2 linked regions of the Homo sapiens genome follow. The protein of the gene in region 2 interacts with the protein of the main gene of each other region in a biochemical or structural test. Each region holds a gene or a part of one and is shown on either strand. Other genes may lie near its edges.

Region 1 (3,745 bases), on a different chromosome or scaffold from region 2:
TGGTCTCAAACTCCCGACCTCAGGTGATCCATTCGCCTCGGCCTCCCAAAGTGCTGGGATTATAGGCATGAGCCACCGCACCTGGCTGTCTCTTCTGTTCAGTTGTTTTTTTTTTTTTTTTTGAGACGGAGTCTCGTTCTGTCGCCCAGGCTGGAGTGCAATGGTGCAATCTTGGCTCACTGCAACCTCCACCTCCCGGGTTCAAGCGATTCTCCTGCCTCAGCCTCCCAAGTAGCTGGGACTACAGGTGCATGCCACCACGCCTGGCTAATTTTTTGTATTTTTGGTAGAGATGGGGTTTCACCGTGTTAGCCAGGCTGGTCTCGATCTCCTGATCTTGTGATCCACCTGCCTTGACCTCCCAAAGTGCTGGGATTACAGCGTGAGCCACTGCACCTGGCCTGTCTCTTCTGTTTTTTGAACATGCTGTGTTTTCCTGCCTCTGGGTCTTTGCACAGGCCTTTTCCTCTGCCTAGAACAGAATTGTAAGCCCTGTGGGGGCAGGAACTATGTCTGGTTTTTTTTGGCTCTATAGCCCCCAACATTTATCCTGGTAAACAAGTATGCAATAAATGCCAGCTGAAACAGGTCTTTATAAGTTTTTTTTAAGTTTTTTTTTTTTTTTTTTTTTTTTTGAGGAGTCTCACTCTACCACCCAGGCTGGAGTGCAGTGGTGCGATCTTGGCTCACTGCAACGTCTGCCTCCCAGGTTCAAGCGATTATCTAGCCTCAGCCTCCCGAGTAGCTGGAATTATAGGTGTCCCCTGCCACACTCGGCTAATTTTTGTATTTTTAGTAGAGACGGGATTTCACCACGTTGGCCAGGGTGGTCTCAAACTCTTGACGTTAGGTGATCTGCTCGCCTCCGCCTCCCAGAGTGCTGGGATTGCAGGCATGAGCCACCACGCCCAGTTTTATAAGTAATTCTTGAATAAATGTGCCTGAGCCTTGTCTATTTTTTTTTTTTTTTTTTTTGAGATGGAGTCTCGCTCTGTCACTAGGCTCGAGTGCAGTGGCATGATCTTGGCTCACCGCAACCTCTGCCTTGCGGGTTCAAGCCATTCTCCTGCCTCAGCCTCCTGAGTAGCTGGGACCACAGGCGCCTGCCACCATGCCTGGCTAATTTTGTTTGCATTTTTAGTAGAGACGGGGTTTCGCTGTGTTAGCCAGGATGGTCTCCATCTCCTGACCTCATGATCTGCCCCCCTTGGCCTCCCAAAGTGCTGGGAATTTTTTTTTTCTTTTTCTTTTTCTTTTTTTCTGAGACAGAGTCTTGTTCTGTTGCCCAGGCTGGAGTGCAGTGGCCCGATCTCGGCTCACTGCAACAGCCGCTTCCCAGGTTCAAGTGATTCTCCTGCCTCAGCCCTCTGTGAAGCTGGGACTATAGGTGCGCGCCACCACGCCCTGCTAACTTTTTTTTTTTTTTTTTTTTTTTTTGAGATGGAGTCTAGCTCTGCTGCCCAGGCTAGAGTGCAGTAGCCGGATCTCGACTCACCGCAACCTCCGCCTCCCGGGTTCAAGCGATTCTCCTGCCTCAGCCTCCTGAGTAGCTGGGATTACAGGTGCGTGCCACCACGCCCAGCTAATTTTTGTATTCTTAGTAAAGATGGGGTTTCACCATGTTGGCTAAGCTGTCTCAAACTCCTGACCTCGTGATTTGCCTGCCTTGGCCTCCCAAAGCGCTGAGATTACAGGCATGAGCCACCGCGCCCGCCCAATTTTTCTATTTTTAATAGAGAAGGTGTTTCGCCATGCTGGGCAGGCTGGTCTCAAACTCCTGACCTCAGGTGATCCTCCCGCCTCGGCCTCCCAAAGTGCTAGGATTACAGGCGTGAGCCACTGCTGGCCTAAAAGATGCTTCTGGAGTAGGAGGCATTGGGCCTGGCTGGAAGGTTTGCGTCTGCAAAGGCCTGAAGAGAACATCCCAGGTGGGAGAAACAGCAAGGAGGGGAGGTGTGGAGGAGGCAGGGAGACCCTGTTCTTGGGACTACTGTCTGCAGAGGGTCTCCAGAGGCAGGACCCCGGTAGGGACACTGATGCAGGAGGCGCTCTGCAGTGCCTCCCCCCAATCTGTGGGCCGGGGTGCCCCCAGGGACGCAGGCTGTGCGCTCCCACGCCCTGCCGAAGCAGGACGTTCCCACGCTGGGGCGGCCCCGAGAAAGGCTGTGGGGCGGGCCGGGGGCGGGCGCCCGCACTCAGGTCCCTCCGCAGCGGGTTCTCAGTTGCTCGCTGGGCAGACCCAGGTCGCGCTCCCACTGCCGAGCCCGCGAGGTGAGTGAGTTGGGGGAGGACCCCGCCACCCAAGCCCGCGCGGGTCAGGGGCGCGGCTCGGTCTCCTGCCTTCGCCGCTGGGTCACGCCCCAGTGGTCCCTGTCTTAGAGGGTTGGGGGGCTTCTTGTAGGTTAGAGTTGAAGACTCCTGGGGAGTCTGCATATGTGTGCCATCTCTTTCCCCAAATATAGATTACATCCTCCCTCTCTTGATATGTGGAGCTCTCCCACCCACTAATCATAATCACTGGCCGGAGCCCCTCTTTTCCAGAAGTGTGGGCCGCCCCCTCCCACTTATCACCTGTAGTGTGCCCCCTCCCTCACTCTATTTGTTGGGTGCCCCTCTCTCTCCCTAGATGTGGGACTCCCCTTCTTTTCCCCAGATGTGTGTCTCCCTCCCTCTGACCCAGTTAAGTCCCCATCCTCTAAAGCCCCTCCCCACCACCATGGATGCCAAACCCTGAGTCTTCCCTGGGGGTGGGAGACTGGGCTCAGCCAGACTGGCTAAGCCCAGTCCCCACCCCAACCAGATCCAGCAGAGCAGGCCTGTGTGCACGTAGGCAGCCAATTAGGGGGGAAGGGGTGGGGGCCAGACCGTCTGTCTGTTCTGCCGGTGCAGGGGCCTCTGGCCCCTGCAGGGAAGAGAGACTCAAGAACTGCTCCCTCTCCACCTGGACCCCACCCAGCTTCCTCTGGGGAGCAAACAAGTGAGCGGGGTTCTCCAATCTGGCCAGACTGAGCTGGGGCTGGCACCAGAACCCAAGCCCTCAGCCTCAAACTCTTCAGACCCTGGCCCAAGACTTAGGCCTCCTCCCACTTCTCAGATGGTGAATTGAGGTCCCAAAAAGGGGCTTCAAAGGTCTAGGACCCCCATTGGCCCCCCGCTGGGGATATCAGACAAAATTAGAAGGGTCAAGGGCATGAGGGTGACCTTGAAACACTGGGACACCCCTACCACTACCATACCAGTGGAAAAGGATTTTTCCATCTGGCCCTGCGGTTTGGGGGCAGAGGGTGATGTGGGGGCAGAACTCATCTATACCTTCACGCCCCCAGATGCTCCCCAGAGCTGCCTGGAGCTTGGTGCTGAGGAAAGGTGGAGGTGGAAGACGAGGGATGCACAGCTCAGAAGGCACCAGTGAGACCTGGACTCCTTCCTCCCTGCCTAACTCCAGAGATAGGGGCAGGGGTCCCCTCTGCAGGCTGCCCCCTTTGCCCTTCCATGCCACCCTGGGCCTGTTCCTACCACACTTCCCATGTTCCCATGATCCCACTCCTTGGTCCAAGGTCAAGTTTCTCCAGGAAATGGAGTGCGCGGGGTGAGCAGACAGTGGTCATCTCCATTCCAAGCTTCCTTAGGAGCCAGCCCCCAAGCCTCAGGCCCCTAGACCTTTTGTTCTGAGGTGGAGGATGCTGACAGAACCTTGGACCCTGATTCCTCCTTTCCAGACCCTAGTTTCAATGCTAGTAAGAAG
Region 2 (3,745 bases):
GAAAGAGATATGTGACTTTTCAAACAGAGAATTCAAAATAGCTGTGTTGAGGAAGCTCAACAAAATTCAAGATAACACAGAGAAGAAATTCAGAATTCTACAAGATAAATTTAACAGAGATTAAAACAATTAAAAAGAATCTAGCAGAAATTCTGAAGCTGAAAAATCCAATTAACGTACTAAAAAATGCAGTCCCTTACAGGCAGAATTGATCAAACAGAAGGAAGAATTAGTGAGCTTGAAGATGGGCTATTTGAAAATACACACTCAGAAGAGACAAAAGAAAAAAGAATAAAAATGAATGAGGTACACCTATAAGATCTAGAAACTGGCTTCAAAGGGCAAATCTAAGAGTTACTGGCCATAAAGAGGAGCTAGAGAGAGAGATCAGGGTAGAAAGTTTATTCAGCGAGATAATGACAGAGAACTTCCCAAACCTAGAGAAAGATATCAATATTCAAGTACAAGAAGGTTATAAAACACCAAGCAGATTTAACCCAACGAAGACACCCCAAAACATTTAATAATCAAACTCCCAAAGATCCAGGATAAAGAAAGAATCCTAAAAGCAAGCAAGAGAAAAGAAACAAATAACATAAAAAGGAGTTCTAATAAGTCTGGCAGCAAACTTATCAGTGGAACTTTACAGGCCGGGAGGGAGTGGCATTACATATTTAAAGTGCTGAGGGAAAAAACTTTTATCCTAGAATAGTACATCCAGTGAAAATATCCTTCAGATGTGAGGGAGAAATAAAGACTTTCCCAGGCAAACAGAAGCTGAGGGATTTCATCAACACCAGACCTGTCCTACAAGAAATGCTAAAGGGAGTTCCTCAGTCTGAAAGAAAAGGACATTCGTAAGCAATAAGAAACCACCTGAAGGTACAAAACTCACTACTAATAGTAAGTACACAGAAAAACACACAATATTATAATACTGTAATTGTGTGTAAACTGTTCATATCTTGAGTAGAAAGACTTAGAGATTAACCTAACTTATCAAAAATAATAGCTATAACAACTTTTCAAGACATAGTATAATAATATATAAATAGAAACAAGAAAAAGTTTTAAAAGTGGGGAGAGTGAAGTTAAAGTGCAGAGTTTTTCTTAGTTTTCTCTTTGATTTTTGTTTATGCAATCAATGTTATGTTGTCATCAGTTTAAAACAATGGGTTATAAAATATTATTTGCCCTGGGCGTGGTGGCTCACACCTGTAATCCCAGCACTTTGGGAGGCCGATGCGGGTGAATCACCTGAGGTCAGGAGTTCGAGACCAGCCTGACCAAATAGTGAAACCCCATCTCTACTAAAAATACAAAAATTAGCTGGGCGTGGTGGTTTGCTCCCGTAGTCCCAGCTACTTGGGGGGCTGAGACATTAAATGGCGCCACTGAAGAAGAATGAATAAGGTCTAGTAATACAACAGGGTGACTACACTCAACAATAATTTATTGTACATTAAACAAACTAAAAGTATAATTGGATTGCTTGTAACAGAAAAAAAGGATAAATGCTTGAGGTGATGGATAGACCGTTTACCCTGATGTGATTATTATACATTGTATGCCTGTATCAAAATATCTCATGTACCTCTTAAGTATATATATATATTTACCTACTTCGTACTCATAAAAATTTTAAAAGGTACATAAATGTTATCATTGCATCCTCTTAATTTTATTTTTCAGTTCCAGAGGGATAATCCTGTCTCTGCCGCAAATGCAGCACCTTCCTCAGTCTTGGGGCGTCCATCAAGCGGAGAGCTGGAATGTGACTGAAAGTAACAGAGTATAGGTGGAACTAGAACAAGGTCACGAGCTGGTGCCCAACTCGTGTAACTCCTGGTTCCAGGCTGTCCCTCTAGGATGCTGTTGGCGCCAGCCGTGGTAGTAGGACAGAGTCTGGGTAAAGGTCGCCTGCTGACAAGATGGTAGCTAGGAGACCTCTAGGTGCGCCAAAATTAGGGCGTCTTTTCCTGGACCGGCAAAACGCCCTGCTCAAAGCTCATTACATCACCACGCCCAAGAACTGATACTTTAGCAGGGCAACGCACCAACCAAGCGACTCCGCCCCACCCTCCCCGCTCCTCCAGCACACGCAAGCGCACAGAGGCCCGCGAGTGACGTCACCTCTCCCGACACCACCTCGTTGTCGTACGACCAAAGGCCTGTCGTAACGGCCGGGAAAAGCCTCGAGAAGAAGGGCACGCACGCCGTACACCCTAACATGCTCGCCAGCATGCGCGCGCAGGTCCTTGGCGCAGGCATTGGGACTGGAGCCAATGAGGTGCGGCGACGTTACTGCGTAGCCGCCAGCTCGGCCGCACGTCAGGGCGCGGGAGCGCGGAGCGAGTTTGGTTGCACTTACACCGGTACTTAAGCGCGGACCGGCGTGTCCTTGGACTTAGAGAGTGGGGACGTCCGGCTTCGGAGCGGGAGTGTTCGTTGTGCCAGCGACTAAAAAGAGGTGAGAGCGGGTCGCGGAGGCCGCACCTGGTTAGAGGCAGAGCTGTGGGAGGCGCGCACTTGCGAGCGACCGAAACCCAAGCGGGGAGCATTCGAGTGGAGCCCGCGCTGGGTGGGAGGGCGGGGAGTGAAGACCCTGGACTGTGGTCAGACCGAGCTGGGCGAGTAACGGCTTGAGGTGCGGCGGAGCCCTAACTAGGGACAGGTATGGTCTCGGTCAGGGACTGGAGGCGGCTTGGATACAGATCCGAGGAGGAGGCGGCCTCTTCCGTAGTGGTTGCTGAAGGGCTATGGAAATGATAGGCAAGACTTCCCTCCTGGAAAGCCGAAGCTTAGAGCTTCACGTTCTTCTTCAGAGGGCAAAAGCTGTTGCTCTTCTAATAAGGGGCCAGTTCTTTTCGTGGGCACATGTTTCTTCCGTCAGTCGTTCTGACATCCTAGAAGGAGTTTCATCAATCACCTTGAAACCGACCTGGACGGGTGACCTCGTGGTCGCCCCAGGAGATCACAGGTAGGGGAGTTGGGATGTCCCCGGGGGACCGTGCAGCCTGCCCCTGAGCTCCCATTCACAAGTTCGAGTGTCAAGCTACTCCTGTGACCTGGGCAGATAGAAACAGCCAGGACCGCTTTTTAAACATTTGTGTGCTTTGCGTTATCCTCAGGGAGAGGTGGCTTTACATTGTAGTAAGATTAAATGGTTAGGTCTTTTTAAAAGTTGCGGTTGTGGTGATTTTGGCTTAATGTGTTCGCCCTTGAGCTTCAGATCTGTGACTTCGTGACCATGATTGTCTCTTCTGAAACTGGAGTTTGAATTAGGTTCCCTCTTTGCTTGGGCTTTAACGTTCCTTCACGTATACACACAAAAATACGTTTTTGAGGAGGTACTCCTAAAAATGTTTTTGGTATTAAAGAATATTTGGTATAAAGAGTATTAAAGCAAAACAAGATTCATTCTGGTATTTAATGACATAAATTAGCAATGGATTGGTAATTAAGTGGCTAGAGTGGTCATTCATTTACACTGTATTTGTTACCTGAGGAAAAATTTACTAAGTTGAAGCTTTCGTTTTTAGAATTAAATATGGGTGATGTTGAGAAAGGCAAGAAGATTTTTATTATGAAGTGTTCCCAGTGCCACACCGTTGAAAAGGGAGGCAAGCACAAGACTGGGCCAAATCTCCATGGTCTCTTTGGGCGGAAGACAGGTCAGGCCCCTGGATACTCTTACACAGCCGCCAATAAGAACAAAGGTAAGAGTCACTTGTTAAATAAAACA

What was found. The genes of interacting proteins can lie anywhere in the genome.
Region 1: the proteins of CYCS (region 2) and COX4I2 form a complex in vitro, tested with the Homo sapiens proteins (4 studies listed by BioGRID).

The regions. Positions count from the first base shown.
Region 1 is NC_000020.11:31,635,692-31,639,436, forward strand, and holds the start of COX4I2 (cytochrome c oxidase subunit 4 isoform 2, mitochondrial), read left to right. Parts: upstream 1-2,220; 5' UTR 2,221-2,271; intron 2,272-3,326; coding exon 3,327-3,408; intron 3,409-3,417; exon of another isoform or gene 3,418-3,492; coding exon of another isoform or gene 3,493-3,589; intron 3,590-3,745. UniProt on the Homo sapiens protein: Component of the cytochrome c oxidase, the last enzyme in the mitochondrial electron transport chain which drives oxidative phosphorylation.
Region 2 is NC_000007.14:25,123,925-25,127,669, reverse strand, and holds the start of CYCS (cytochrome c), read left to right. Parts: upstream 1-2,409; 5' UTR 2,410-2,470; intron 2,471-3,542; 5' UTR 3,543-3,550; coding exon 3,551-3,719; intron 3,720-3,745. UniProt on the Homo sapiens protein: Electron carrier protein. The oxidized form of the cytochrome c heme group can accept an electron from the heme group of the cytochrome c1 subunit of cytochrome reductase.